Regions from separate parts of the Homo sapiens genome. Here all the other regions are reported to be linked to region 5. The links are microRNA targets in miRTarBase. Many come from high-throughput screens and were not tested one by one. Region 5 holds a microRNA gene; each other region holds the end of a gene's coding sequence.

Region 1 (4,848 bases), not on the chromosome of region 5:
CCCACCCGGCAAGAATGGCTGAAGTCACATAGCAGCCTGGCCCTGGCCCCTCTGAGCCTGTGGAGAGCCCTAGTTGTCTGTGATTGGGGAGGGGGGATCAAGAGACCCAACTGCATTGCCTGCCCTCCTTCCCAGGCTTCCAGTCCTCCCAGTGGATCCCACCTCTGCACCTTTGCCCAGGCTGTGCTGAGACCTGGAAGGCCCCTTCTCTCCCTACTCCATCTTGACAAAGCCTTCCTGCTTCAGCTCAGAGGCACCTCTTCCAGGAAGTTGGCCCTGATGGCCCCAGTGGAAGGGAAGTTCCTTTCAACTGAGTGGGGAGGCGCCCCACCCTAGCAGCCCCTCCCAGACCCCAAGCAGCCTTGGGGCTCCCCAGGCACTCGCCTGGCAGAACGGAAGCAGGGGTGGCGGCTGAGGTCTGCCACCCTCGCTGAGCGCCCTGCAGCCCCTGTGGTTGCAGTTTTACTTGTTTTGAAAGCCCCATTAATGATCAGAAGTTTGGGAAAGGGGGCCTGGCTGGGCTAGACTGGGGGGACATGGAGCCCCAGGGACCAGCCAGGCCCCTTTCTGACCAGACCTCTAATCTGATGTGATGGCACCACTGGTGGGTGGGACACAGCTGTCCCCAGAATGTACCTGGGGGAGGAATGACTTCACCTCCCCTGCCGGGTGAGTCACCTTCTGGGGGGTGGGGGGGCGGTGGATGGAAGAGGTCAGGCTGCCTCATTCCCCTAAGACACTGCTGGGCCTGCTTCCCCTTTTGAGGGCAGAGAAACGTCCCTCCCTCAGCTTGGAAGAGGAAGGGGCCAGATGCGCTGTCCTGTGCACCTTCCAAAACACCCCCTGACCTCCAGCACCCGGGGACTGCATTTACCTTTGTTCCCATTTGTCAGATGGAGAGGTCGAGGCCTCGGGAGGAGCCGGGCTTCCTCCCCACCCCACTTCTTGCTCCTCTGCTCTCCCCGATGCCCACTTAGCCCCCACTCCCACCCCGCTCCACACACAGGGACATATGAACATTAATGGGGACTCCCCAAGCCCTGGCAGGGCCCCCACAGCTGTATCCATGGGTCTGTCCGACCCCTGGGTCCAGCCACACCTCTGCCCCCGGGGCCCCACCAGCTCTGTGGGGAGGCGATGCCAGCTGCAGGCGGGGACAGCGTCGGGGCCAGGGCAGAAGGCCCCAAGCCTCTGAGTCAGCCGGGCAGGAAGGAGGCCAGCAGCCTCTGCCCGCAGCCTGTTCCGTCACGACCCCCCCGCCCCACCCCAGAGTCTCAGCTTCCTCGTTCAGAAGAGGGGCCTATGCCGTCCTATGAGAAGTGGGTGGGCACATGGTGGGTGCTCAGGGAGGACCACAGCCACCCAGACGGGGGTCAGGCCACGTGACGGTGAGGGCCCTCCATCCTCCCGCCATCCCCATCACTGTCCACACCCCCCAGGCAGCTGCTCTGCTGACTCAGGACCGTCCAAGGCCAAGGTGGGGTCACAGCCCTGCCAGCCGCCCCCAAGGCCAGGGTAGCCCCCAGCCAGGCTTAGAGTAAGGGGGTCTCTGCAGGCCCATTCAGCACGTCAGCACTCTTCTGGAGGGGGCAGCGACGGGGGAGGGCAAGGCACCCCCCCATAGAGAGGCACTTTTCACAGTGTGTCGTCTCCTTGGAGCAGAGTGGGGGGTGCAGAGGCACCAGGAGGGGGACCTGGAGCCCTGGGGTCGGGGGAAGCAGGGTCAGGCCAGAGCAGGAACTTGCAAGGGGCGCGGCCAGGGCAGTGCCAGGCCAAGGGTGTAAGCCCCAGGGAAGGGGTGGGGGCTCATGGTGAAGAGGAAGTGAGCCGCCCCGGGGCTGCCAGGAGGGTGAGGGGAGGGAATCCCCGCAGAGGCTGCAGCACCCGTCCCCTACTCAGTCACCCTCAAAGGCTGGATTTGAGGAAGGAAAAGCACCGCAGAGCTGCTGTATTTAAAAAACAAGCGTCTGGATCTCTGCAGGGGCTGGGACCAGCTGCAGTGGGGGCTCCGGCACTGCTCCTGCTCTCCAGGACTCTTCCCACCACCCCTGAGCGGGGTCGGGGCCTGGGGCCACATCACAGGAGAGGGAGGTGCAGCATTACCAGCTGTGGGGCGGCCGGACCCACGGCCTGCCTGGCTTGGAGTCTGAGCGCCTCCCCAGCCCACCAGCATGGCTGCTGGACCTTGGGCATCAGCTGCTCCGTGCCTCAGTTTCCCCACCTGCAAAGTGAGGCGATGATGTGGACTCTGTGAGCTCGTGGCAGGAGTGAAGTTGGATAAGGAGGCCCCAGGCCCGGTCACAGGAGTCACTGTCCCTCCTGCAGGGGCTGGGCTCCCCAGTGGCCAGACCAGGCCAGAGCCTTGGGGTTGTGCTTTTGGCTGGGACCTAGAGCCCCCAGCATCCTAGACCTGTTCCTCCTGGAAGCACAGGGCTCACGCTCCAGCGACCACCCTGACCCTGGGTGGGCCGCACCTGTAGTCACCAGCAGGCAGCTATAGTGACGCCAGGTTTCGTTCCAAAATAGTTGTCTCTAAGCGTTTCCTATCTACCTGCTCCATGCGGTGCACCCAAGGCCAAGCCTCCCCTTCACCTGTGTGCCTCTCCTGACCCTGGCTGCCCTGGGGCTTAGGCCCCACCTCCAGCCAAGACCAGGACCCCCAGGATTGCTGCAAAGAGCACCTTTATTCACAGCAAAAGGACGTCACCATAGCAACAACACTTCAATTCCCTGAGAACTTTTCCCTTATCATTCGCTTTCCTAGCTATGTCTTTGCAAAGAGAAAAACAACAAGAAACACAGCCCACGGGACAGGTGAGCCATGCTGGGCCCAGCGGGGAGGTGGCAGCTACACAGGAGGAGGGCAGGGATGGGAGGTTCCAGATGCTGGAACGCATAAATACACAGAGTGCCAGACAGTCCCACTTCAGCTTTAAAAACAAAGATGACCCCGAGTTTGGCTTCTGTTTTTTCTGATCCACAGAAAAGATAAGATAAAATAAGACCCTCCCCCACCCCCACCCTCCCAAGCAAAAAACAAGAACACCCTACTTTTTACCCATCCCCTTTCAAAAAAAACAGCACAGTAAAAAAATACTGTCACAATATTTACAGACACGCCCACTGTGGGCGACTTGCTCTCTACTTTGGAGAGGAGATTAAATGCTGAGCTCTGACTCACCCTGTCCTGGGGAGGCAAAGGGAAGACCTCTGAGGAGGCCTGGAAGACTCCCCACTCAGAAGAGCTGGGAGGGGTGCCACTGTTTGCCCAGCTGGACAGCCAGCCACTGGGGGCTTCGTGGGGCCACTGGAACTGGGCGGTGGCTGCTGTTACTCTTAAGCCACAGCGTCCAGGCCAGGAGGAAGGGGATTGGGTCACGCACCCCCAGACCCAGCCTCCCCTGCAATGAGCATGGCTCAGTGAGTCGTACTTGGGGCTATGACACAGGGGCCAGGACTTCAGGGCACAGGTACCCCCAGCACAGAGCTTGTGGTCAGCAGGAAGAGAAAGGCACCTACGCATCGCATCCCTGCAAAGTAGCCCGGAGCCCCGTAGCTGTAGAAAGATCCAAAAATCCTAACAGAATTGCCCTCGGAGTGGCCTCCGACACACAAATCCTTCCTCCAAGCAGGCCCTGCAGCCCACTGGCCCTCGGAGCAGAGGCACATAAGTGGCGCTGGTGCCCGCCCCTCCACAGAGCAGAACTGCCCAGCAGCCTGCTACCCGGGTGGGCATGCAGTACACACACACACACACGCACACGCACACGCACAGGCACGGCCCTAGGGGAGCCTCGAATGCCGAGGCCAGGGCAGCGCAACAGGGTCCCTGGGCCCTTTGGATACCAGGGGCGCCCAGGGATTGGGTCTCAGCCATGGCCACTAGAAGATGGCAGTGCGGGGACACCAGGGTGTGTCCGGGTACAGGTGGCAGTGGATGGAGCGGAACCTGTGGGAACAGAGCAGGGGCTGGTCTGCGTGGGTGGCAGGCAGGTGCTGAGCTCCCATTTGCAGTCCCACAACACTGGCGGCCCCACCCCGAGCAAGCAGGACTCCGGGGGACACCTCTATGTAGAGTCATGCCGCTTAGAGAGACCCTGCTGCAGCTCCACGAGGCCCCCTGACGCCCCTAGGCCACCCTACGCAAGCCCATCTGGGCCGGGGTTTCCTTACCTGGATGGGTCGGCCTCCACCGAGAAGGGCCCCTTCACGTGGACGGCGTTCCGCTTGTTTTCAAACATACCGTAGCTCAGCGTCACCTGTGGGGAGCGGGCGGAGTGATGCCGGGAGGGGCCCGACATCCCTGGGCCCCGCCCCAGGCTGGCCACACAGCCCTGAGTGAGGCAACGGCCCTGCCCTGGCCTCCCTTGGACCTGGAAGGACACCTGCCCTGCACACCCCAGGAATAAGGTCCCAAACTGGGGACCAGCTGGGGCTGGCTGCATTGCCAGCGTGGACAAAATACGCACAGTAGGCGCATCACAGTGAAGAGAAGAGACGGCAGGAAAACAACCCGCCATAAACAGCTTTGAGCTCATGGCAGGAGTGACCCCCCCTGGCTGACAGTGGAGTGCTGCCTGGCCTCCCTGTTTAGAACAGTGCCCCACCCCACTGCGCCCCTCTCGGCAGCCACACGTCCCTTCCTGTGCTCTCGGAGTCCTGGCGGGGCCCGGAGGATGGTGCACCTGCTCGTGGAGCTCCGAGGTGGGCACCTGCTGCAGGTTCTCCAGGTGGGAGTGGAAGAGGCCGCTGCGGATGAGGGGCACACCCAGCAGGGCCTCCACGATGTAGCCGATGGTGCAGTCATCAGGCAGCCGGATCCGCTCAGCCGTATTCATGAAGTGACCC
Region 2 (4,848 bases), not on the chromosome of region 5:
CTGGGGATTTCCTTGGTACAGGTGGTTCTCTCCAGCAATGGGAGCTTCATTCTTTACCAGTTTGAATTGTTTGGATTTACTCTTATATTTTTCAAGTCAGGATTAAACCCTTTTATATATTCTCGGAACAGTGCAGGGCTGAGAAGGAAAGTGCTCTGGTGCCTCCAATACATAGGCCTGGGTTTTTTCTGCTGCAAACAAAAGACTCGACTTCGAGCCATGGGAAAAGGGAACCTCGAAGTCAACAGAAACAAATCCTCCCATCATGAAACAAACTCTGCCTACATGTTATCTCCAAAGCCACAGAAGAAATTTGTGGACCAGGCTTGTGGCCCAAGTCATTCAAAAGAAAGTATGGTGAGTCCCAAGATCTCTGCTGGACATCAACACTGTGGTCAGAGCAGCTCGACCCCCATCAACACTCGGATTGAACCTTACTACAGCATCTATAACAGCAGCCCTTCCCAGGAGGAGAGCAGCCCATGTAACTTACAGCCAGTAAACTCTTTTGGATTTGCCAATTCATATATTGCCATGCATTATCACACCACTAATGACTTAGTGCAGGAATATGACAGCACTTCAGCCAAGCAGATTCCAGTCCCCTCCGTTTAAAGTCATGGAGGCTATAGGATCTTATGTAAACAGTTTTTGTTTCTGATAGTAATGGACTTTATTCTAACTTGAGATCAGTGGCGGATCAAAACCTACAAGATTCAACTGAAAAGTTGGCAGTTATGGTTTTCTTTCATCTGATGTGTCAGTATCTGTTGATTTGCTTTGTAGTTTGTTGACATCTTAAGATTTGATGTGAAAGTTTTAGATTTTTTACCCTGCTCTTTGCCTCAGTCTTTTGTACCGAGCCTTTAAATAGATGCCAGGAATGAAGCTACTGTGTTAAAGTAGAAAGTCAACCGATTATCATGATTTGAGTCAGTGTTATGTGACTTCAAAATAAGGTATTGACTGGATTTTTTTTAAAGAATGTGAAAATATGATTTTTGCTGAGGTGTTATTTTTATTAATTGAATTGTAAATTTTGATTTTTTGAAGTGTTGAAATCGGGAACACTACACCTTGTTGGTAGCAGGTTGATTTGAATAAATAATATATTGTTAGCTGGGTGCAGTGGCATGCACCTGTAGTCCTAGCTACTTGGGAGGCTGAGGCAGGAGGATCACTTGAGCCCGGGATTATGAGTCCAGCCTGGGCAACACAGCAAGACCCTGTCTCTAAAGGAAATGTATATATTCTTTTTTTTTTTTTTTTTTTTTTTTTTTTTTTGAGACGGAGTTTCACTCTTGTTGCCCAGGCTGGAGTGCAATGGCATGACCTCGGCTCACCGCAACCTCCACCTCCCGGGTTCAAGTGATTCTCCTGTCTCAGCCTCCCAAGTAGCTGGGATTACAGGCGCATGCCACCATGCCCGGCTAATTTTTGTATTTTTATTAGAGACAGGGTTTCTCTGTGTTGGTCAGGCTGGTCTTCAACTCCTGACCTTAGGTGATCCGCCTGCCTCGGCCTCCCAAAGTGCTGGGATTACAGGCATGAGCCACTGTGCTTAGCCAGAAATATATATATTCTTAAGGCAGAAAAGGTGATAACTCTGTCTTTACCAAAAACACTCACACAGGTATTAGGTACTTTTCTTTCATAGGACAGTCAACTAAGAATATAGTATTATGATTATTGCCATTTCTTATTATAGACATGTTTTATGTCAGTTGAGTAGGTTTACAATTCTTTTGAAAAGAAATATATTTGGGCCGGGCATGGTGGCTCACACCTGTAATCCCAGCACTTTGGGAGGCTGAGGCGGGTGGATCACCTGAGGGTCAGGAGTTCGAGACCAGCCTGGCCAACATGATGAAACCCCGTCTCTACTAAAAACACAAAAATTAGCAAGGCATGGTGGCAAGCACCTGTAATCCCAGCTACTCGGGAGGTTGAGGCAAGAGAATCGCTTGAACCTGGGAGACAGGTTGCAGTGAGCTGAGATCGTGCCATTGCACTCCAGCCTGGGTGACAAGAGCGAGATGTCATCTCAAAAAAATGAAAAAAAGAGAAAGAAAGAAAGAAAAGAAATATATTTTTGCTTGTTAAAAGTGAATTATTTATTTATTTATTTTTTTCCTGAGAGGGAGTCTTGCTCTGTTGCCCAGGCTGGAGTGCAGTGGCATGATCTCTGCTCACTGCAACCTGCGCCTCCCGGGCTCAAGTGATTCTCCTGCCTCAGCCTCCTGAGTAGCTGGGATTACAGGCGTGTGCCACCATGCCCAGCTCATTTTTGTATTTTTTAGTAGAGACAGGTCTTGAACTTGTCTTGAACTCCTGACCTCAGGTGATCTGCCTGCCTCGGCCTCCCGAAGTGCTGGGATTACAGGCATGAGCCACCCCAACTGGCCCAAAAGTGAATTGTTTCTGAATGATCTTATTCAAGAAGCCTAGTGAAGAGGACTGCATCTATGGTAGAGGTGCACTGTTCCCAGGAGAGAAGGCACTGCGGTAATCATCTCGGTGTTCTGTGGAAAACAGTGTGGACTCCTGTCATGCATTGGGCAATATTTATTATTGCTTAACAAGGTTTACAGATAAGACTGGGAATGTTTTGATTTATGTTTTCCTTCTGTGTGAGAAGAGTTTACTAACCACCTGACAGTATTCAAGTAACTATTTAGAAATGACTTCTTTTTTGTCTTTATTTATTATTATGGTAGAAAAATTCTCAAGATAATCTATTTTCAAACTAATCATTTTATTTCTCTCCCATTAATCTTAAAGTGGAAATGGGCAGAAAGAAAAAATAGATTTAAGTATTTCTATACCTGAAACTAATTTTACTATATGCTCTGAGATTCCTAGCATAACAACTGTGAACTCATATTTTATTGTAAAAATATTTTCAGTATACAGTTAGTATTTGAACTCACTAGGTTTTTAAATGTTAGACACACAAGATGAGCATCAATATACAACACCTATCTTTATAAATTGTTATATTCAAGAGTTATTATTGCAGATTGGAAGGTACTTTGTTCCTTTGCGTAAAAGTCTTTTTTTTTTTTTGTAGAAACAGAGTCTTACTCTGTCACCCAGGCTAAAGTGCAGTGGCATGATCTCAGATCGCTGCAACCTCCGCTTCCCGGGTTCAAGCGATTGTCTTGCCTCAGCCTCCAGAGTAGCTGGGATTACAGGTGCCCGCCACCACTCCTGGCTAATTTTTGTATTTTTGGTAGAGACAGGGTTTCACCATGATAGCCAGGCTGGTCTTGAATTCCTGGCCTCAAGTAATCCACCCACCTCGGCCTCCCAAAGTGCTAGGATTACAGGCATGAGAAACCACATCCAGCTGAAAGGCATTTAATTTATAGTTTCCTCCCTCAGCTCTCCCCAAATACAGGGGTCATGAGAGGTATAGAGAAGACAGAATAGATATTCAATTAGAACTCTGCTCAACCTTATCTTATAACTGTTACCTTTCAGTATTGATCAGTTATTTCTATTTTTGAGATTTAAATAGGCATAGATTTTCTTTTGTTTTCTTTTTCTTCTAAATTTTTTTCTTGCCACACCCAGGGGCAGCCTCGAATTATTTTGTTTTTAAGTTCACCTTTTAGACTGATTTGCCTACCTACTCCCTCCTTCTTTCCCTTTCTCCCTCCCTCCTTCCCTTTTTCCCTTTTCTTTTTTTTAAGATGGAGTCTCATGCTTGTTGCCCAGGATGGAGTGCGGTGGCACAATCTCGGCTCACTGCAACCTCCGCCTCCCAGGTTCAAGCGATTCTCCTGTGTCAGCCTCCCGAGTAGCTGGGACTACAGGCACGCACCACCACTCCCAGCTAATTTTTGTATTTTTAATAGAGACAAGGTTTCACCAAGTTAGCCAGGCTGGTCTCAAACTTCTGACCTTGTGATCCACCCACCTCGGCCTACCTAAGTACTGGGATTACAGGCGTGAGCCAGTGCACTGGCCTATTATCTCTTTTTAACAAAGAATTAAGAAATCTAATATTCTTTCCCAAGATCGTACAAAGAATTGTGGCAAATTAGGAATTAGATTTTTGTCTTAATTCAAAACCTGGTATTTACCCCAGTGTGCCAAACAGCTTTATAATGAAGACAACATTAATCAAGCATCACATTTTTAAAGGCATATATCTATTTTTTTGGCTATGCAAAAAACCTTGTCTCTATTAAAAATACAAAAATTGGCTAGGCATTTCAAATGTGATACAATAAAATATTAACACAAAAGTAATTTCTATTTATAAAATTTAAAATGGCAGGTTTTCTGTGTGACGTTTGAGTTTGAGATGATTTGACTGGCATGAGGCCCATCATTGGGAGGTAAAAATTACAGCACAAAGAAAACTAAGCAGGTGCATATGAGGTATTGTCTCTTTATGCTCATCAAAAAATAATCTCCAAAAGAAAAGTTAAAAAAATTATTGTTATAAATTGCATGAAATACATAGTGGGCTCGATTCATAGCCCCCGTCCGTATCTATATCTCTATATCTATAGAGACATAACTTCTTTCTTCGTAAGTTATATATGTCTACTTCTACCTGTGTTATCATAATAAAGGTGTCATGATGATACAGGTGGAGGTAGAAATATATAACTTATCTCTTCATAAGGGCTAAAATGAGAACTAAAAGTAATGAGAATTCAGTTGAATATGATTAATTATCAGGATATGTTAATTAGTTCTCTTGATGCTTACTGTGATGCAAAGTATGTGACGTATTTTAAACATTTTATAATAATTGTTCGTATGTTAACCATTAGGCAAGATTTGTATTTCTAATGCTTTTAATGTTCTTTTAAAATAATGTTTGGAAAATAA
Region 3 (4,848 bases), not on the chromosome of region 5:
TGGTGCCCGGCAAGGGTTCCAGTTTTTTTAACCTTGTTTTCCCCCATGTTGACTTTAAAAGATGTCATTTAATGTCAATCCTTTTTTAAAAAAATCGATGTGAATTCACTAGATCACTTAGTGGAAAAACACAAATAAAGGGGCAACGGGTCCAAAAATCTTAGAAAGGAGGACTATATTTTTCTTTTTCTGAGTTCTATTGTACAGCATGGTGAATACAGTCAAAAATTGAGTATTGTACATTTCAAAATTGCTAAGAGTAAATTTCAGATGTTCTCACTACAAAAATGTTAAGTATTTGAGGTGATGGATGTAACTAGCTTGACTAGTCCACAATGTATGCATAATTTATAAGATCACTTTATACTCTATAAATTTATACAATAATAGTCAATTTACAAAAAAAGTATCTTATGATTATGGTTTCATATATATGTATTTTTTTACACGTAAATACTTGACCACTTGGAACTTCCCTTAGTATAAAAAGGAGTCTAATCCAACTTTTCTCTTTTCAAGGTGGCCCAAACTTCTGAGCATGGGTAGTTGTTGCAAAGTTCCAGTTCCTGATCACACACGGCCCCTTTGTGCCACGCCGAGTTCCTGTGTATTTGGCTTATTTGTGGACTTTCTTGTTCCAGGAATCTTTTTAAAGGGCCAGCATCATGCTGTTTCAATTACAATGTTCTAAAAACAGCAGAATTTAAAACAATTTGACTAGTCTGGCATATTTGCTTTTCTGTTTTAACTTTAGAATCCGCTTGTGTTTTAAAGGAAGGTTTTACATCTTAAGATACTGTATAGCAAAATGTGAGAATCAACAGAACTTTCACTTATTCAGGGCCTGTGTTCCTTAGTAATGTTATAATACCTTTCACATAGGTGTTTCCCTATTTGTTACTAGGTATTTTATCTTTTTTGGGGGTTGCTATTGAAAAAATGACTTCTGGTCAGGTGCAGTGTCTCATGCCTGTAATCCCAGCATTTGGGGAGGCTGAGGTAGGAGGTTCGCTTGAGGCCAGGAGTACAAGAACAGCCTTGGCAACATAGCAAGACACTGCCTCTATAAAAAATACAATAAAAATTATCTGGGCGTGGTGATGTACACCTGTAGGCCCAGCTACTCAGGTGGCTGAGAAGAGAGGATCGCTTGAGCCCAGAAGGTAGAGGCTGCCGTGAAACATGATCATGCCACTGCACTCCAGTCCAGGTGACAGTTAAGACCCTGTCTCTAAATAAAAATAAAAAATGACCCTCCATTATAGCCTATATTTATAGGAAAGCTACTGATGTTTTTGTTAATTTTGTGTCTGGTTAACTTGGTGAATTCTTTCTTCAGTCACAGATTTTCATTTGCTCCTTAGATGACCTGGGTATGCAACCATCTAACCTGCAAGTAATTTCACCTTCTCCTTTCCACTTTTACAGCATTTCTGTCTAAGTGCTGTTTCTTTTTCAATGATTTCTTCTATACTATTTGTTTTACCACACTGACCTTTAACAATAAAACATTAAATATTGCTAAATAAGAGAATAGATATAAATAGATTTTCCTTTCTTTTATAAAACAGAAACAGGCAGGCCGGGCATGGTGGCTCACGCCTGTAATCCCAGCACTTTGGGAGGCCAAGGCGGGCAGATCACCTGAGGTTAGGAGTTCAAGACCAGTCTGGCCAACATAGTGAAACCCCGTCTCTACAAAAATACAAATATTAGCTGGGCATGATGGCGGGTGCCTGTAATCCCAGCTACTTGGGAGACTGAGGTGGGAGAACTGCTTGAACCCAGGAGGCGGAGGGTGCAGTGAGCTGAGATTGCACCACTGCACTCCAGCTTGGGCAACAGAGCAAGACTCCACCTCAATTAAAAATAAATAAACTAAAATGGAAACAGGATCTCCCTATGGTGCTCAGGATGGTCTGGAACTCAGGCTCAAACGATCCTCCCACCTTGCCCTCCCATAGCTGGGACTACAGGCGTGAGCCACTGTGCTCAAATGAAACAAAGGCACAGCACAACGAATCGTCCAAGTAAAAAAGACCCACTTGTCACTACCTGGCCCCACTGGTATTTTGTGGTAGAGGTGGCCAGGAAAGAATAATCACTTGAGAGGGGACAGGTGCTCCCTGCTCTGACTTCTGTCTAGTGCACTAGTAGTCAAAGCTGCTAAAGAGTTATGAAGAATGTGTCATTTGCATATCACAAAGTTTTATTAATGTAATTTTAAGGCCAATTAAACTAATTTTATTCAAAGTAAGTCTACATTAAATTACAATATTAACAATCTCTAGACACAACGAACTTATAAGAAAAAAAAAATAGAAATCTGTTTGGTCTTTCTTAGACCACATATCATGGAACTCATAAATGAAAATTTTCAAAGATAGAAATGACAATTAAAGAGTGAGGATTTTAATATGGAAACCCACAAGGTGTCATATTTCAAACCCGCATGTTTCAAAAAGAGACTCTTAATAATTTAGCACAAAATCAAATTATATAAACTTGGTATATTCCAGAAAATATTGCTTTAAACACTTATGCCATGATCAAAATTCCTTTGGTAGCTTTTAATCAAAATGAAACATGCTATTATGTAAAATATAAAGTACTTTTAAATGTTATCTCAAAAGTATCTTTGTCATAGTTACCCTTCTAACATCACTACTGAACTTTCCTTTCACTGTTCAACCTCATGTATATATACACAACACAAAACCAGGTACCAACAAAATCCTTTTAATCTTTCCACAAAATAACCTCTGCTTCACAACATCAAGACTTTAAGTCTCCATAAACTTTTTACAGTTTACAGCAGAGAACAAGGATCGTCCCTGCGCATGACTGTAAAAACCAAACCAAACTTTATTATTGCAATCACACAAATACTGCAATTAAAAAAAATCAAAGAGCAGTTACCCCAATGCAAAAAAACAGGGACTGCCAGACTCAATCTTAGAATGGAAACACAAACACACTAGCCCCAAACCCTAAAACAGAGATTCACAAGGAACTCAGCTGACGAACAGACGCAGCAGGGCGGACACCATGGCCTTGGCACCTCAGGGAGCTCACTTAGAAACCTGACTTACGAAAAATCAGCCATCAAAGTTTACAACTTTTGGAAATACATGAAACAGAGAGGGGCCAGTGGCTAGGGTGCGTCATCCATTCGCCAGCTTTGAACCCTGGCTCTTTCTAATGTTCACCCATGAAGGGCCCTTGTTTTCACTCTAAATGCTGATCATCTGAGCGAGCTGTCTTCAGGGATACCTAAGGAATCTTCAGAGCTAAAAAATGCAGCATCTAGGGTCTTCTTCATTGTGCACTCATGATCACACACGAGAACAAACCAAACTTGCAGCTTTTTGACACAAGAACAAGACCTTTTAAAGGAACTTCTCTTTAGTAACATCTTCTTGTCCAATCTCAAAGTTATTTTGCACAGAGTAACAGAAACAATTTAAATGCCTAAAAGAACTAGAGGAAAAACTGGAGGGAAAAAGATACATCTGCAGGTTGAAGTCTTGAGCCTTGTGAAAGATGACCCAGGAGCCACCTCCCTTCCTTCGCCTTCCAATGTCCACAGCTGGATCAATCAGAGTCCCAGAAATGGCACAGGTGTGCTTCCTGCTCTGAGGGTACATTCTAGTGTTTCATGAAGGGGAACCGTCTGCAGATGCGTCAGGCCACGTAGTGGTACTGATTCGGATTGTCTTTGTCTCTCTCCATATAGTCTCTGTCTATCAGAGATTCAATTCTCTTTTTCAAATCTCCAGGCTAAAAAAGAAGAATAAAACCCCCCTAATTACAATGGCATTAAATTTACAAACATTTACATACAAGGGGTATATGCATGAAGTATGTAACTATACTTATAGAAATATATATACAAATAGATATTTATATGAAAATCATTTATAATTATACACATATTTATGAAATGAACAAAACTTTCTATTTTAAAGACAAAGTTAACGTTATCTCTTGATAAAAAAAGCGTCCATGTGAGTTTATGGTCAGAGTGTGGTTTCCTGAGGGAAACGTGAAACTTGTGAAATGTACATACATCATCTGCCATCAGTAAGGGCACGTATAAGCGAGGCAGATCCGACATCTGCCATCAGCAAGGGCACGTATAAGTGAGGCAGACCCGACATCTGCCATCAGCAAGGGCACGTATAAGCGAGGCAGACCCGACATCTGCCATCAGCAAGGGCACGTATAAGCGAGGCAGACCCGACATCTGCCATCAGCAAGGGCACGTATAAGCGAGGCAGACCCGACATCTGCCATCAGCAAGGGCACGTATAAGCGAGGCAGATCCGACATCTGCCATCAGCAAGGGCACGTATAAGCGAGGCAGATCCGACATCTGCCATCAGCAAGGGCACGTATAAGCGAGGCAGATCCGACATCTGCCATCAGCAAGGGCACGTATAAGCGAGGCAGATCCGACATCTGCCATCAGCAAGGGCACGTATAAGTGAGGCAGACCCGATCACGTGACACATTTTTATTTGAAAGGAAAATCTCAACATGTCTTACTGGGGCAACTTTTATCCTTTGAAAGGATGCTTCTGCCTAAGTAGTGTATTTTATTTTGTTTATTTATTTTGAGATGGGGTCTCATTTTGTCGCCCAGGCTGGAGTGCAGTGGTGCGATCTCAGCTCACTGCAGCCTCCACCTCCTGGACTCAAGCAATCTTCGTGCTTCAGCCTCCCCAGTAGCTGGGATCACAGGCTGCACACCACCATGCCTGGCTAATTTTATTTTTTGTAGAGAAGGGGTCTCACTATGTTGCCCAGGCTGGTCTCAAATTCCTGGGCTCAATCAATCCGCCTGCC
Region 4 (4,799 bases), not on the chromosome of region 5:
AGGGGTCCGCCTCGTGGTCAGACTCACAGGTCCGTCTCCTCTGCTCAATTGCCCAGTCTTTGCCTAGACCTGCTACGTGAACTTTGTCACAGTGGCAAGTCAGAGCTAGCGTGGCTGCGACTCCTTTGTGGGAGGAAAAGTAAGGCCTTGAACATCTAGGTGTAGGGAATCCACCCCCAGAACACTGCCAGGGAAGGCAGCAGAGCAGGCTGCTGCAGTGAGCGGCCCCTGACACTTTCTCCACGGTCCCCTGGCACAGGAAGACAAGTCCGAGAGAGAGCGCTGGCAGCACCTGGCTGACCTGGCCGACTTCGCGCTGGCCATGAAGGATACGCTCACCAACATCAACAACCAGTCCTTCAATAACTTCATGCTGCGCATAGGTGAGCACCCCCAGCTGGCCTGCCCCGCAGCAGGCTCCCTTCCCATGCAGGGGCCTGGCCCACCACCAGGAGAGACATGAGGCTCAGGACAACTGAGGCAATTCGGGTGGGGAGGTTCACGCACTCACAGGGCAAGGAGACCTGAAAGACCTTTAGTCCAGACGACTCTAGATGACTAAACCAAAAACCCAGCTGATGTGATGATCCGACTATACTGTGCCTACTGTTACAATAGAAGCTTGGCCTGCCTGGCTGAGAAGTGAGTTTGTGATCCATTTCCAGAGGGGTTGCTGTGCCTGCTGAGGACATGGCTTCCCAGACAGGCCTGCTCTTTGAAAGGAGTTAAGATCACCTGCTGCTTCTACTGAGGGGGTATCATTCCTGAGTGAGGTCCCAGGAGACTTGAAATACCAGCTGTGTTAGAAGCTGGCCACTACCATGCCGAGTAAATCTGCATATGGGGGGGGGGTGGCGGCTGACACCTAACAAGCACACGGATAAACAGGAGATGTGATTTCCACCCTCCAATAGCATACAGCCAAGTTGAATGAGGACAATGATGTGTTACATTAGGAGCTTTGTGGTACAGGTCTGGAGAGGAGATGGCTTCTGAGGCCCATAACAAGGTGTGGCCTGTGGCTGTGCTGAACTTTATGCCTCTACCCTAGGCATGAACAAAGGCGGGGTTCTGGCTGGGGTCATCGGAGCCCGGAAACCACACTACGACATCTGGGGCAATACAGTCAATGTAGCCAGCAGGATGGAGTCCACGGGGGTCATGGGCAACATTCAGGTATGTCCAGTGGCACAGCTGGCACGTGCTCAGACTCGGCATGAGAACAAAACCGGAACAGTGCTTTCCCACGTGCCCCTGCCTCCCACCCTGGCCCTGAACAGTAAGTCCAGAGGCAGAGACGTGGGGCAAGTGGAAAAGAATCTCTGCAATAGCTAGCCTCAGCACAGGAAGAAACACTTCCACCCATCCACAAAATCTGGGCTGAAGTTCTAGATGCATATGGCCTACCTTTGGGTATGAACCTTCTAATACCTTGTGATCTGTCTCAGTGGCGTCTGGCAGAAAAGCTCCACGAAAGGGGCAAAGGGACAGAAGAGCAGGCAGTGGCAGTTTCCAGGTAACAGTGCTGCCACCCAGGTGACCATGGCCATCCTAGGAGAGAAGTCTCTGGATGAGAGGAGGCCCCCAGCCAGTCACTCCAGGGTTCTCCTTCCCACCCGCTGCTCGCCACGGGTGGAAGGGCTTGGCCCTGGGAGGTTTGGGGAGTGTCCCGTACTGCTTGGGACCCATGGATCAGTGCTCGGCTCCAACCACCCAAAGCCCCCACCCGCCCTCAGTCTAGGCTCCCCCCGTAACGCCACGTTCTTGCTCCCCCTCCCTCTCCAGGTGGTAGAAGAAACCCAAGTCATCCTCCGAGAGTACGGCTTCCGCTTTGTGAGGCGAGGCCCCATCTTTGTGAAGGGGAAGGGGGAGCTGCTGACCTTCTTCTTGAAGGGGCGGGATAAGCTAGCCACCTTCCCCAATGGCCCCTCTGTCACACTGCCCCACCAGGTGGTGGACAACTCCTGAATGGCCTCGAGCCTGCAACAGTCCAAACCGGAAGGGAGAATTTATTTTTTGAAACTGAAGGAAGTCCCGACCTTCCTGGATTGAAGTGCACACTCATGGACTTTAGGTTTAGAAACCTCCTCAGCCTTCATTTGTTCGTGGATGTGTGAGCTCTGAGGGTGGCCCTGCTATTCCTGTGTGTGCCTGTAGTGTCCCCAGCATAGGGGTCTTAGGCATAGGGCTGAACAGTCCTTCCAGAGCCCTCGTTCCAATCCCTGCCGTCCTTGCCCCTGAGGGGCCCTGACCACTGTGAGCAGGAGGGTGGCAGAGCTGGGACAAAGCTGCCTTTGCCGCTGGGCTTTCCGGGACTGTGGAGGGAGCACAGGCGGGGAAGCTCCACTTCAGACAGGGCTTGGTGGGGCAGGACATGGCTCCCATTTTGAAGGGAGGTCTCCATGTGGTCCGAGTGAGGTGAGACGGCCCTCGTCCTGGTGTTCCTGATCATCTTGAAAGGTTCTTCTGGAACTCCTGTCCCCTTAGTCATGAGAACAGAAAGTGCAATATTTCCTTTCACCTGGCAGGGGAGGGGGGATTTATTTCTGAAAGAAAAATATATAAACAGATCTTCTACATTTATATTTTTAATCTTCTGTTAAATACACTTTCCGATATTGCCTTGCCTTTTGAGCTCTTGCTACAGTCGCCTTTGCTACTGCTTTAAGAGAATTTACAGGTATTGATAAAGAACAAGACTGTTTTATTAAAAGCTTTATTCAACTTGAAAGTGATTGTGGAAATTCTGTTAATATCACTTATCTGAGGAGTGCTGGTACTTTGCTGACTCATGCCACTGGTCCCCACCACAGGCCTGGAAGGCAAGAGCTTGAAGGTCTCATCATAGCTCACTGTACCCCGGAACGCCTGCTGCCTGGCCCTGTCTCTTTTATTCTTAAACTTTCTTCTAAAGGGTACTCCAAGCTGGCTTTAATCCCCTGCACTGTTCCTGGAGCTCTCCCACACGGAGGTTACTTCGTGGCCATTGCAGGGTTAAGTCTGAACGTGGCCTTGGGCCAGTCATGACTCCTATCTGTGCCTGGGCAAGGGAGGGCTACAGGAGAACCTGGTCAGCCAGACACAGGTTTTCATATCTGTGAGTGACCCACACGCCAAGGAACCAGAGGTGCCAGCAGGTCAGAGGCCCGTGGTTACGGCAAATCAGGACACTAACCGGAGAGCCTGCAGGAGAGGGAAGACCCGGGGGGCGCCTGAGTCCCCCTGAGTTAATGGGCAGATTTCTAACTAACTAACTGTGCTTTTTCAGAGGGGACTTCCTAGTACATTCACAGCTCTACTAAACTTTTAGGAAACAAAATATGAGACACACTGAACTCTGATTATTTTATCCTACTGCTTTCTCACACCATATTTATAAAGCAGTGGCCTAGAATACACTGCGCCTAACCAAACAAACACTGAAGAACTTCCTTTTCAAAAGTTTCAAACAGGAAAATGAGGAAAAATTACTTAAAGCTTTCATAAAAGCTAAAAATACTTTCCTTTTAAAAAAAAAAAAATATTGGGTCTTCCTTATTATCTTCATTAGTGAATGTGGGTTATTTTTCCATTTATTTAGATCAGTGTTTCTCAACAGAATCAAGCTATTGCAGTTTGAGTGGAGTGCTACATTTCTGTGAGAGCCCTTTCTGAAAATTTTAGGATTTTTGGCATCTCTATTCCTGGCATTAAATTAGTAGCAGTTACTGTGACAACTTAATTGCCTGGTCTTTCCCAGAGTTAATGCCCTCAATAATTTGATATTTTTCCATAAGTACTTCTTGAGTGATACACCTTTTTCAAAAAATGGCTTTTATTGCCCCACAAATGATTTTCAACTAAAATGTATGATCAACTAATACCTTTAAAAAACATCTTGAGCATTTTAAGAAGGGACCAGGTGATCATGGGAATTGTTCAAAAATGCCAGTGTCTATACTCAAACCTGCTCTTCCATCCAGATGAACAGGTAGGTGTCTGTTTTCATCAGAAGGGTGATGTACCCTTCATCAGACAGTACTACCCACCTGGTACTGTCTTCAGTACTGGTTACTTACCTCTGATGTGCTCCCAGTGCAGTGAAAACAATCTATTAGGAGACCAGACTCATATCCAACTTTTCTCCTTTTCTTGTAAATGAGGCAAACACTTGATGCAAGGGCTTCGTACAGAACAGAGTTTCATGAGATGCTCGTTGCTCCTCCCATGAAGTGGATAATACTTCCACTCCTAAAAAGAAAGATTCCATCAATCTCATTCAGTGCAGCTGGGGGAATCGGAGCCTGGATCACTGATATTCAATCTCATTCAGTGCAGCTGGGGGAATCGGAGCCTGGATCACTGACATTCAATCTCACTCAGTGCAGCTGGGGGAATCGGAACCTGGATCACTGATATTCTGGACCCACTGGACCCATACAGCTTTTTTTTTTGGTCTGGACTAAGGCTGCCCCTTACTGGACCAATGCAATCTAGAGACTGGGGACTGGAATCTAACTGCGCAGAGAAATCAAAGACCGATGGTGTGAAATCTGGGGCAGCTTCAAAATTTCTGCCTCCTAAAAACATTTCACCCAATTTTTCATTATTGCCCATGTCACATTTAACTGAAACAGGTTCACCAAAAAATCTCTCTCTCAGCCAGTCTGGAAGGATTTCCATTTAGAGACTGCTCCGTAGGGAGGAGTAAGTGTGTGCTGACGTGTCATGTCCATTTGTCTTCACAGTGAAATGAGTCTTCTGGCTCCATCCACCATAACTGACCCATGACTCAGCCTTATCATTAGGTGTCTTTCCTG
Region 5 (4,848 bases):
GGAATTTCTCTGGTCTGTGGGTGGACTCTGCTCTGGTCTGGGGCCTGGAAAATGCTTTTCCATCTGGTTGGATTTTTCCAGAGCTGGAATGGAACAGAGAGAAGGGGGGATCTGGCAAGGTTTAGGGAATCTGCCAGGGTCAGCCAGCTGGGGGAAAGCCAGGGTACTCAGGATCTTTTAGATTAAGGTGGACTTGGGTAATTTAAATTTAATAAATGCTTGGAGGCAAGAACTTCCTCCCTTTATCTCCCTAAGTCTAAACCCCAAAGAAATTGTAAGAACCTTGAGCCTAAGAGGAGCCCACCGCCAGGCCCCTGGGGCAAGAGCAGCTCCCCTGTGCTCCCTCAGCCACCCCACAGCAGGCTGGCAAAGGCTGCAGCGCTGAGAGGGTTTTCGACTTCGAGGGATACTTATGTAAATAATGTTATTTTTAACAGAGGAGATAAAGGCAGAAAACACCACAGGAAATTGGCTGACAGCAAAGAGCGGAAGGAAGAAGAGGTGCCCCTATACTAAACACCAGACGCTGGAATTGGAGAAAGAATTTCTGTTCAATATGTATTTGACGCGAGAGCGCCGCCTGGAGATTAGCAAGACCATTAACCTTACAGACAGACAAGTCAAAATCTGGTTTCAAAATCGCAGAATGAAACTCAAGAAAATGAACCGAGAGAATCGGATCCGGGAACTGACCTCCAATTTTAATTTCACCTGAGAGCGCGGCCTCTCCTCCTCCCTTCCCGCTCCTTCCTCTCCCCGCCCCTCCTCCCTTTGTGCCTGGTGATATATTTTTTTTTCCTCCCTGAGTATAAATGCAATGCGACTGCAAAAAAGGCAAAGACCTCAGACTCTCCTTCCAAGGGACCTGTGGTTCGTGCTGCGAAGATGCTTCCACTTAAAGCATGAGAAATGGGGTGCCGGGATGTGGGGTGTGGTGTGTGCCCTCATAGATGGGGGTGGGAGTGTGGCTGGTGTGTGTGTCAAGCCCTCACTCACCCACGCACTCACACACAGCATTCTGTTCTCCATGCAAAGTTAAGATCGAATCCATCCGCTTGTAGGGGAAAAAAAGGAAAAAAATTAACCAGAGAGGGTCTGTAATCTCGCAGAGCACAGGCAGAATCGTTCCTTCCTTGCTGCATTTCCTCCTTAGACTAATAGACGTTTTGGAAAGTTCGGCTAGTGTTCGTGTGTTTGTCGTAGCACCCAGAGCCTCCACCAAACCCTCTCCATGTCTTTACCTCCCAGTCGCTCTAAGAATCTGCTTGAAGTCTCGTATTTGTACTGCTTTCTGCTTTTCTCCCACCCCTCCTAGCACCCCCACATCCCCCATCTAGTAACATCTCAGAAATTTCATCCAGAGGAACAAAAAAATTAAAAATAGAACATAGCAAAGCAAAGACAGAATGCCCCCCCCCCCAAATATTGTCCTGTCCCTGTCTGGGAGTTGTGTTATTTAAAGATATTCTGTATGTTGTATCTTTTGCATGTAGCTTCCTTAATGGAGAAAAAAAAACCTAATAAATTTCCAGAATCATAATCCTCAAATGGATGGTTTTTTGTTTTTAGTGATTTTTAGCAACACCCCTCCCCCGAAGAGGCTGAGTGTGTGGATGTGTGTGTTTTGTGTTTGACTCATCTCCTAGAGCCTTTCTAGAACGTCTCTTGGCGGGTTTAATGTAAGTGAGAGACCATAACGTTGATTTAAATATTATCCAGGTGACCACAATAAGTCAAGGTCATAAAACAGTAATGTCAGGACGGTCTTGGTGCGCGCGAGAGGTGGATTTTATGATCTGCAAATATAATGTGGTGCTGCAGTAAAAGATGCATTTAAAGGTGACTGGAGGAGGGAAAGAGGCAGAGAGCAAGCTGCAATCTTGAGGAGCAGACGGATCTGATTGCCTGGGGTGCTGGGCTGGGCGCACCCCACTGCTGCTGGGGGTCACCCCAAGAGCCCCCCACCCATCCAAGGAAAGGAATAAACTTAACCGCTGGAGGGGCATGAGGAGCTCAGCCCCCCCAACCTCGACAGCAGCTAACAGAAACGCCAGGAGCAGCAGGAGGAGGAGGCAGCGACAAGGTAAGAGAAGCGGTTTCTTGTTCTTCTCTTGGCGGCGGAGTGGGGATGAGCGGTGTCCCCAGGTGTCCGGCGTGCAGCGGACAGAGCCTGGAGGAAGGTGTTTAGGGCATCCGTGCTTGCCGAGAACCCAGGCTTTCCTAGTGGCCGCTGGCAGCGGAGGGCAGCGACTGGGAGCTCCCTCTCCTTCCCTCCCGGGCCCATTGCCATGGGGGTTCCACAGTTAAAGGGATAAATTGATGGTTTTTGGCTTCTTTATCTTTTCGGGCACTTTGGGTCTCCTCGAAGTCGACACTCTGGTCTAGGTGTTGCTCAGTCTGGTCGTCTGTTGGTGGGGGAGGAGGAGTACAGAGGGTTGAAGCTTGAAGCTTAGGTTTTCCTGCTTTTCGCTGGTTTGGATGTGAGCCTCGTCCAGCCTCTTGTTCCCTGTGCTCCCTGGCTGTAACGTTTTGCCAGGCAAGTGGCCTGATTGGAAGTGGCTCCAGAGCACAGGGCTATGATTCAGCTACCCACATTCGCTGAGAAGCCTAAACCGAGCTGAGAGGGAGAGGATCAGAGGGAGTCTAGCAGGAGAGTGCAGGAGAGCCAGATGGACAAGACAGGGGACCCAGCTCCAGAGTGGAAGGAAGATCCAGCTTCCCCCAGGGCCAGGGCCAGATGCAGGGGAATAGCTCCACTGCGGTGCTGGGGGTGGGGCAGGTATTTGGCCGCCAGTGGTCCCATTTCACCAGATTTTTCCTGAGCAATTTGCTTAGACCAGAAACTAATGAAGGCAGTCAGACCCCTTACCCACCCAGCAACCCAAAGTCTACTCTCTAGTCCTTAGGGAGGTTGTGGGGGCGGAAAGGGGGACGGGGCTGAATTTCTTCCTTCCCCAACCCCCTTCCCTTCTCCTCCAGATAGATGCAAAGCTGAATCTCCCGCCCTGCTCGCTCAGCTGATCTGTGGCTTAGGTAGTTTCATGTTGTTGGGATTGAGTTTTGAACTCGGCAACAAGAAACTGCCTGAGTTACATCAGTCGGTTTTCGTCGAGGGCCCCAACCCACCTCTCCCACTCCTACCCTCCCCAGTGGGACTGCCCCACTGCCCCCTCCCAGATAGGGCAAAGTGGGTGCAGACCAAGGAGGACAAGCTGTGAGTGGGGTTGCAGAACAAGTCTGGAGAACCCTGCTTTATGCCGTCCTCTCAACCTATCCCAATCCCTGTGATTAAGGGAGAGGAGTCTTTCCTGCAGCTATTGTCTCCTGGGCCCAGCTGATGGAGACAGACAAAGAGGGTCCAGCCAATTCCAAGGAAATTCAGGAGTTTGAGTAAGAGGTGGCCTGGCGGGCCAGCTCAGTTGGGCAGCAGGGTGGGGCAGAATTATTAGCAGAAAGAGGAGCACAGAAAGAGAAGACGGTCTCTGGAATGGTTAGCCTCTCCCACCTACCACCTCCAGTCGACTGGGGCTCAAGATTCTCCTTAGAAAAGTGGGGTACCTGGAGGTTCCAAGAGTTGGGGAACTCTGAGCGCCAGCCCAGCCCTTTCCCCTTCCCCTTCTATAGCTCCATCTCCAGGGGAAGGACATGTTTGGGGTGTTGGTAGGTTAGAGGAAAGCCATCAAAGTCCAAGTAGAACCCCTCACACACGCACACGCACGCAACTGGGAAACATCAGGGCAAAAACCTGACTCTGGTCTCTGTTTAGTCGTCTGTGGCCTGAAGGCCTCAGTTTCTGTGGCTGTGACTGTCAGGCAGCTGCCTGTCTTTGCACTATGTGGAAACATCTGGGTGAACAGAGGCTGCCCGTGCCCACCATTGCTATGTTGGTGGAAAGGTTGTTGGCTGATGCCAGGGGGAGGAGGGGAGGAGAATGGGGTAGAGGAAAATCTGAGCAGTGTGAAACTTTGCAAAGCTTCCTCTCATCCTTTCCCCCTTGGTTCTTCAATTCTGGCCCTGGTTGCTACAGAGAAAGTTCTCAAAAGAGGTTTCTTTGCCTGCCTGCGGGCGGAGTTGGGGGGGGGGGAATAAATGGGGGAGGGGTTATGGAGACTGAGGAGATACACCCCTGTTCTCAGAGATACTGGGGAAGAGAAGCCAAAAGAAGGTCAGGTTCTTGGTTCTCTTACTTTGAAATTATTATGATTATTAAAACATTATAAACGTCTAGACAGGGAAACAAAATTATGTCCCTGTAACAAAATATATACAGAGTTCTATATTCTCACAGTCATCTGCTGGGAGGGATATATGTGACCTTGTATGAGTGTAGGGCTCTGTTTCTGTCTCCCCTAGGCTCTCTTAAATACCCTGTATGTATTTATACGCATACACATTTATTTTTCCCCTCTCTTATGCGAACATATTTGTTTTGACTCCCAAGGAAGCTGGAGGAGAAAATGGGAATAGAATTTCCTGTCTCCCTAGCTGGATTGTTGGTCTGTCTGTCCCCCATCCCTTTGTGAGAGAAAAAATTTCTTCTCTTGGAGAGAAGTATTCAAACCTCTCTATGGCTCCCAGGGAAATGGGGAAGTTTCCAGAGAGTCAGGCCAGCTGGTGGGAAGCAGGCAAGGGATTCCCCTAGTTTGGGAGCTCCTAGCAGCCTTTGAGTCTTCAGGCTGCCCCAGGCACACAGTCAGTTGGGGCAAAGCGTGTCCCAGGCAGGGACTGGGTGCTCAGGAGCATTTGGCTTGGAGATAGAGTCCCTGATGGGCCGAAATTCACTAATGAACGACTTCTGTGCTTTGGGTCTCTGTGCCCCCATTTCCGTTTCAGAGCTGTTGGGCTTAT
Region 6 (4,848 bases), not on the chromosome of region 5:
ATTTATGAGGCCTCTCAACTGGCTAGCTGCTAAAACCCATCATTGTTCATTGCTCTAGGGGAGCATGGGCAATAGGACTGAAGATTAAAACAAGCGGGGGATAATTTTTAGAGACAAAGAAAATTTCAAATCTCAGCCACCTCTTAGTATTTTGGAGGGAGCTCAGAAGCAACTTTAGCCCCAGGAGAATAATGCCAAGTAACAGGCCTGATTCTGTTATCACAAACATGCCTTACCACTGTGGTAGATGACACTATATTATGGCTCAATATCATTAAAATGTACTAAAGACCAAATTCAGATTTATTTTATTTTATTTATTTATTTTTGAGACGGAGTCTCGCTCTGTCACCCAGGCTGGAGTGCAGTGGCGCCATCTCGGCTCACTGCAAGGTCTGCCTCCGGGGTTCACGCCATTCTCCTGCCTCAGCCTCCCGGGCGCGGTGGCTCACGCCTGTAATCCCAGCACTTTGGGAGGCCGAGGCGGGTGGATCACGAGGTCAGGAGATCAAGACCATACTGGCTAACACGGTGAAACCCCGTCTCTACTAAAATTAAAAAAAAAAATTAGCCACGCGCGGTGGCGGGCGCCTGTAGTCCTGGCTACTCGGGAGGTTGAGGCAGGAGTATGGCGTGAACCCGGAAGGCGGAGCTTGCAGTGAGCCGAGATCACGCCGCTGCACTCCAGCCTGGGCAATAGAGCGAGACTCCGTCTACAAAAAACAAAAAAAAAGGTAGTGACGGAGTTTCATCGTGTTAGCCAGGATGGTCTTGCTCTCCTGACCTCGTGATCCATCCTCCTCGGCCTTCCAAAGTGCTGGGACTACAGGCGTGAGCCACCGCGCCCGGCCTCAGATTCAGATTTAAAGGTGACTCAGAAGTGTCATATCTTGTTTGTTAAGACTAGGTTGTATAAAGGGAACAAAGTTGAAGGCAGCCTGTATACAGATTTTCTCCAAAATGAGGGAAAGGAGCAGATCTATTTCTTTTTCCTTTTTTTTTTTTGGGGACGCTCCGTTGCCCAAGCTGGAGTGCAGTGGCGCGATTTCGGCTCATTGCAAGCTCTGCCTCCCGGGTTCACGCCATTCTCCTGCCTCAGACTCCCAAATAGCTGGGACTACAGGCGCCCGCCACCATGCCCCGCTAACTTTTTTGTATTTTCAGTAGAGACGGGGTTTCACCATGTTAGCCAGGATGGTCTCGATCGCCTGACCTTGTGATCCGCCCACCTCGGCTTCCCAAAGTGCTGGGATTACAGGCGTGAGCCACTGTGCCTGGCCAGCACCAACTTTTAAAAGAGACCGAGTCTTGCTCTGTCGCCAGGCGCGATCTTGGCTCACTGCAACCTCCACCTCCTGCGTTCAAGTGATTCTCCTGCCTCAGCCTCCCAGGTAGCTGAGATTACAGGCGCCTACCACCACGCCCAGCTAATTTTTTTGTATTTTTAGTAGAGACAGGGTTTCACCATGTTGGCTAGGCTGGTCTCAAACTCCTGACCTCGTGATCCGCCCGCCTCAGCCTCCCAAAGTGCTGAAATTACAGGCGTGAGCCATGGCACCCGGCCTGGCACCGACTCTTAATAATAGCAACACGGCTGTCAGCCAACCAATGGTGGAGGAAACAGCAGGAGAAAAAGCAGAGCAGCTGGTCTTCCCACAGTGGTCAGTTTCCGCAGCTGTCAAGAGTAAAATAATCAGGAGTGACTGCTGGGTAGAGGCAGTGATGGTGGGAACCTCCACTTGAAGTCTCTTTGAGTACTGCAAAGGGCAGTGGTTGTAACTCTAGCAGGCATCAGAATCACCTGCAAGGCTTGTGAAAATAGATTGCTGGGCTCCAACCTCAATTTCCAATATCGAAGATCTAAAGTAGGGTCCCATAATTTGCATTTCAAGCAATCCCTCTGGTGAAATTGATGCTGCTGATCTGACACTTTGAGAAGCACTGCTTTGTGGGTATTTCTGGCTCTGTGCCATTCTCTCTCAACGCTCCATTCCCTCTTTCCTACTATCTACTGAGTCCCACCCATCTATTGCTTTATTTCTTCTCCACCATCCCTCTCTTAGTCTCTGTTAGGAAAACTAAAAGGACAGAAAACAGGAATGAACATTAGGGTAGATTTAAGAATTTCTTTGGGCAAGGATTCCAGCACTCTAGTCTGGTTGATAGGTGTTTTCAGAAGCAGAATTTATTCCAAATACATACATGCATCTTCTCCTCTCTACCTAACATGGAACAGTTTAATAAAAAGTAATAGATGCTTTCTCAGTAAGATTTTGCTTGGGGATTCAAAAAAATTGGGTAGGAAATGGTAGACATATTTCACTACATTAAAAAAATTTTCCGGCCGGGCGCAGTGGCTCACGCCTGTAATCCCAACACTTTGGGAGGCCAAGGCAGGGGGATCACGAGACCAGGAGATCGAGACTATCCTGGCTAACACAGATAAACCCCATCTCTACTAAAAACACAAAAATTAGCCGGGCGTGGCGGCGTGTGCCTGTAGTCCCAGCTGCTGGGGAGGCTGAGGCAGGAGAATGGCGTGAACCCAGGCGGCGGAGCTTGCAGTGAGCTGAGATTGTCCCACTGCCCTCCAGCCTGGGCAACAGAGCGAGACTCCATCTACAAAAAAAAAAAAAAAATTTACCAGCCAGGTATGGTGGCTCATGCCCATAATCCCAGCACTTTGGGAGGCCGAGGTGGGCGGATCACCTGAGGTCAGGAGTTCGAGACCAGCCTGGACAACATGGTGAAACCCCGTCTCTACTAAAAATACAAAAATTAGCTGGGCGTGGTGGCAGGTGCCTGTAGTCCCAGCTTCTGGGGAGGCTGAGGCAGGAGAATCACTTGAACCCAGGAGGCGGAGGTTGCAGTGAGCCTAGACTGCACCATTGCACTCCAGTCTGGGGGACAAGAGCGAGACTTCCTCTTAAAAAAAAGAAAAAAAAATTCCTTACTTCTCCTGGACTTTCAAAAAAGTTTTTATTGTAGTAAAACACAAAATTTACCATCGTGACCATTTAAGGGTATAGTTCAGTGGCATTAAGTACATTCAACTTTTTGAGCAACCGCCATCACCATTCATCATCCATCTCCGTTTTTTTGTTTTGAGATGGAGTCTCACTCTGTCGCCCAGGTTGGAGTGCAGTGGCATGATCTTGGCTCACTGCAACCTCTTCCTCCCCAGTTCAAGCAATTCTCCTGCCTCAGCCACCCAAGTATCTGGGATTACAGGCGTGCACCACCACGCCCGGCCAATTTTTTTTTGTATTTTTAGTAGAGATGGGGTTTCACCACATTGGCCAAGCTGGTCTCAAACTCCTGGCCTCAAGTGAGCCGCCCGCCTCAGCCTCCCAAAGTGTTGGGATAACAGGCGTGAGCCACCATGCCAGGCCATCGTCTCCTGAACTTTTTCATCTGCCCAAACTGAAACTCTGTACCCATTAAACAATAACTCCTCACTGCCCCCTCCTCCAGTCCCTGGCAAATACCATTCTACTCCTAGAGTACTTTCAGACTCAGTTTCTTCTTTCACTTAATAAAAGACAGGGTCCACTGCTGACTAATGGGATTGTTTCTATATTTGGAGGCCTTCTTGCAGACATGTGATTTGAGTTTATTGCAGAGAATGGTAATAGGAAATGGGATTGTACAAAGAAAAGAGATGGAGAGAAAACTGGATGAGGGTTTCGCACTGGGTGTCCCACCCACAGGCCTCAGCAGCCCTGCCACGGATCTGCCCGATTCTTTCGCATCAAGAAGTTGATCTTGCGAGCCATTTCCATGTTGTAGATCCGCCGGCACCTTTCATAGCTTTCCCTCTGTCGCCGGCAGCATGGCTTCTCATAATACCGCCGATGCTTAATGTCCTCAATGAGCCCATCCATAGTGAGGATTCTGTATAAAGGCAAGCAATGAGGTTAGACATTTGGGATCATCATTATTCTTTTCCAGTTTCATAAATAGAAGTCGATTGACCAAACAATTGGTATTTATAAAAAATACAGTGGGAAATGGTGGCAATAGAGCATTAACTGCCTACTTACAAAGGCCTCAATAAGAATCTGTGGGCCGGGTGCAGTGGCTCATGCCTGTAATCCCACCACCCTGGGAGCCCAAGGTGAGCAGATTGAGCCCAGGAGTTTGAGACCAGCCTAGGCAACATGGCAAAACCCTGTTTCTACAAAAAATAAAAATAATTAGCCAGGCTTCGTAATATGTGTCTGTAGTGCTAGCGACTCACGAGGCTGAGGTGGGAGCATCACTTGAGCCCAGGGGAGACTGAGGCTGCAGTGTGCTGTGTTTGCACCAGTGTACTCCAGCCTGGGTGACAGAATAAGACCCTGTCTCAAAAAAGAAAAAAAATATTGTTCAGCATGGGCAACACGGCAAAACCCCGTCTCTGCAAATAATACAAACATTAACCAGGCATGGTGGTACATGCCTGTAGTCCCCTCTACTCAGGAGGCTGAGGTGGGAGGATCAATTGAACCTGGGAGTTCATGGCTGCAGTGAGCTGAGATCCTACCACTGCATTCCAGCCTGGACAACAGAGTGACACCTTGACTCAAAGGAAAAAAAAAAAAAAAAAAAAAAGGACTGGGCACAGTGACTCATGCCTGTAATCCTAGCACTTCGGGAAGCCGAGGCAGGTGGATCACCTGAGGTCGGGAGTTCGAGACCAGCCTGACCAATATGGTGAAACCCCGTCTCTACTAAAAATACAAAAATTAGCTGGGCATGATGGCGGGCGCCTATAGTCCCTCCCAGCTACTCAGGAGGCAGGCAGGAGAAGTGTTTGAACCTAGGAGGTGGAGGTTGCAGTGAGCTGAGATTGCACCACTGCACTCC

Evidence for each region. The annotated mature microRNA hsa-miR-196a-3p reads CGGCAACAAGAAACUGCCUGAG and lies in region 5 at 3,068-3,089, shown strand. An mRNA with a match to its seed (bases 2 to 7 or 8) in the 3' UTR can be bound and repressed. Matches are read on the target gene's strand: a 7mer-m8 pairs with bases 2 to 8, a 7mer-A1 pairs with bases 2 to 7 and ends in A, and an 8mer does both.
Region 1: miRTarBase lists LFNG as a target of hsa-miR-196a-3p. The part of its 3' UTR that is shown has no 7-base or 8-base seed match.
Region 2: miRTarBase lists GPR75 as a target of hsa-miR-196a-3p. The part of its 3' UTR that is shown has no 7-base or 8-base seed match.
Region 3: miRTarBase lists CUL4A as a target of hsa-miR-196a-3p. Seed matches in the 3' UTR shown: 7mer-m8 at 1,838-1,844 and 8mer at 1,040-1,047.
Region 4: the mRNA of CENPO is a reported target of hsa-miR-196a-3p. Seed matches in the 3' UTR shown: 7mer-m8 at 1,165-1,171.
Region 6: the mRNA of MRPS21 is a reported target of hsa-miR-196a-3p. The part of its 3' UTR that is shown has no 7-base or 8-base seed match.

Annotation. Positions count from the first base shown.
Region 1 is chr7:2,526,247-2,531,094 of GRCh38, reverse strand. LFNG (LFNG O-fucosylpeptide 3-beta-N-acetylglucosaminyltransferase) reads right to left here. Exons shown (of 8, transcript NM_001040167.2): 6 at 4,686-4,848; 7 at 4,174-4,259; 8 at 2,666-3,949. The coding sequence ends at 3,883. MIR4648 (microRNA 4648) reads right to left here and starts at 4,021; the gene lies at 3,950-4,021. RefSeq lists enhancers at 197-346, 778-1,751, 1,752-2,726 and silencers at 1,067-1,166, 1,687-1,746.
Region 2 is chr2:53,848,901-53,853,748 of GRCh38, reverse strand. It overlaps GPR75 (G protein-coupled receptor 75), which reads left to right. Exons shown (of 2, transcript NM_006794.4): 2 at 1-837. The coding sequence ends at 615. The region is part of intron 1 of GPR75-ASB3 (GPR75-ASB3 readthrough); the gene reads left to right. It overlaps MIR3682 (microRNA 3682), which reads left to right and starts at 4,544; the gene lies at 4,544-4,627.
Region 3 is chr13:113,262,419-113,267,266 of GRCh38, reverse strand. CUL4A (cullin 4A) reads right to left here. Exons shown (of 20, transcript NM_001008895.4): 20 at 159-3,780. The coding sequence ends at 3,685. MIR8075 (microRNA 8075) reads right to left here and starts at 4,347; the gene lies at 4,268-4,347.
Region 4 is chr2:24,817,101-24,821,899 of GRCh38, reverse strand. It overlaps CENPO (centromere protein O), which reads right to left. Exons shown (of 8, transcript NM_001322101.2): 7 at 4,059-4,230; 8 at 1-2,546. The coding sequence ends at 4,094. It overlaps ADCY3 (adenylate cyclase 3), which reads left to right. Exons shown (of 22, transcript NM_004036.5): 20 at 260-383; 21 at 1,052-1,176; 22 at 1,786-2,731. The coding sequence ends at 1,968. Among named protein-coding and RNA genes, the nearest start is that of CENPO, 26 kb to the right of the region's middle.
Region 5 is chr12:53,988,732-53,993,579 of GRCh38, forward strand. It overlaps MIR196A2 (microRNA 196a-2), which reads left to right and starts at 3,007; the gene lies at 3,007-3,116. It overlaps HOXC10 (homeobox C10), which reads left to right. Exons shown (of 2, transcript NM_017409.4): 2 at 438-1,548. The coding sequence ends at 715.
Region 6 is chr1:150,307,094-150,311,941 of GRCh38, reverse strand. It overlaps MRPS21 (mitochondrial ribosomal protein S21), which reads right to left. Exons shown (of 3, transcript NM_031901.6): 3 at 2,963-3,894. The coding sequence ends at 3,714. Among named protein-coding and RNA genes, the nearest start is that of PRPF3, 12 kb to the left of the region's middle.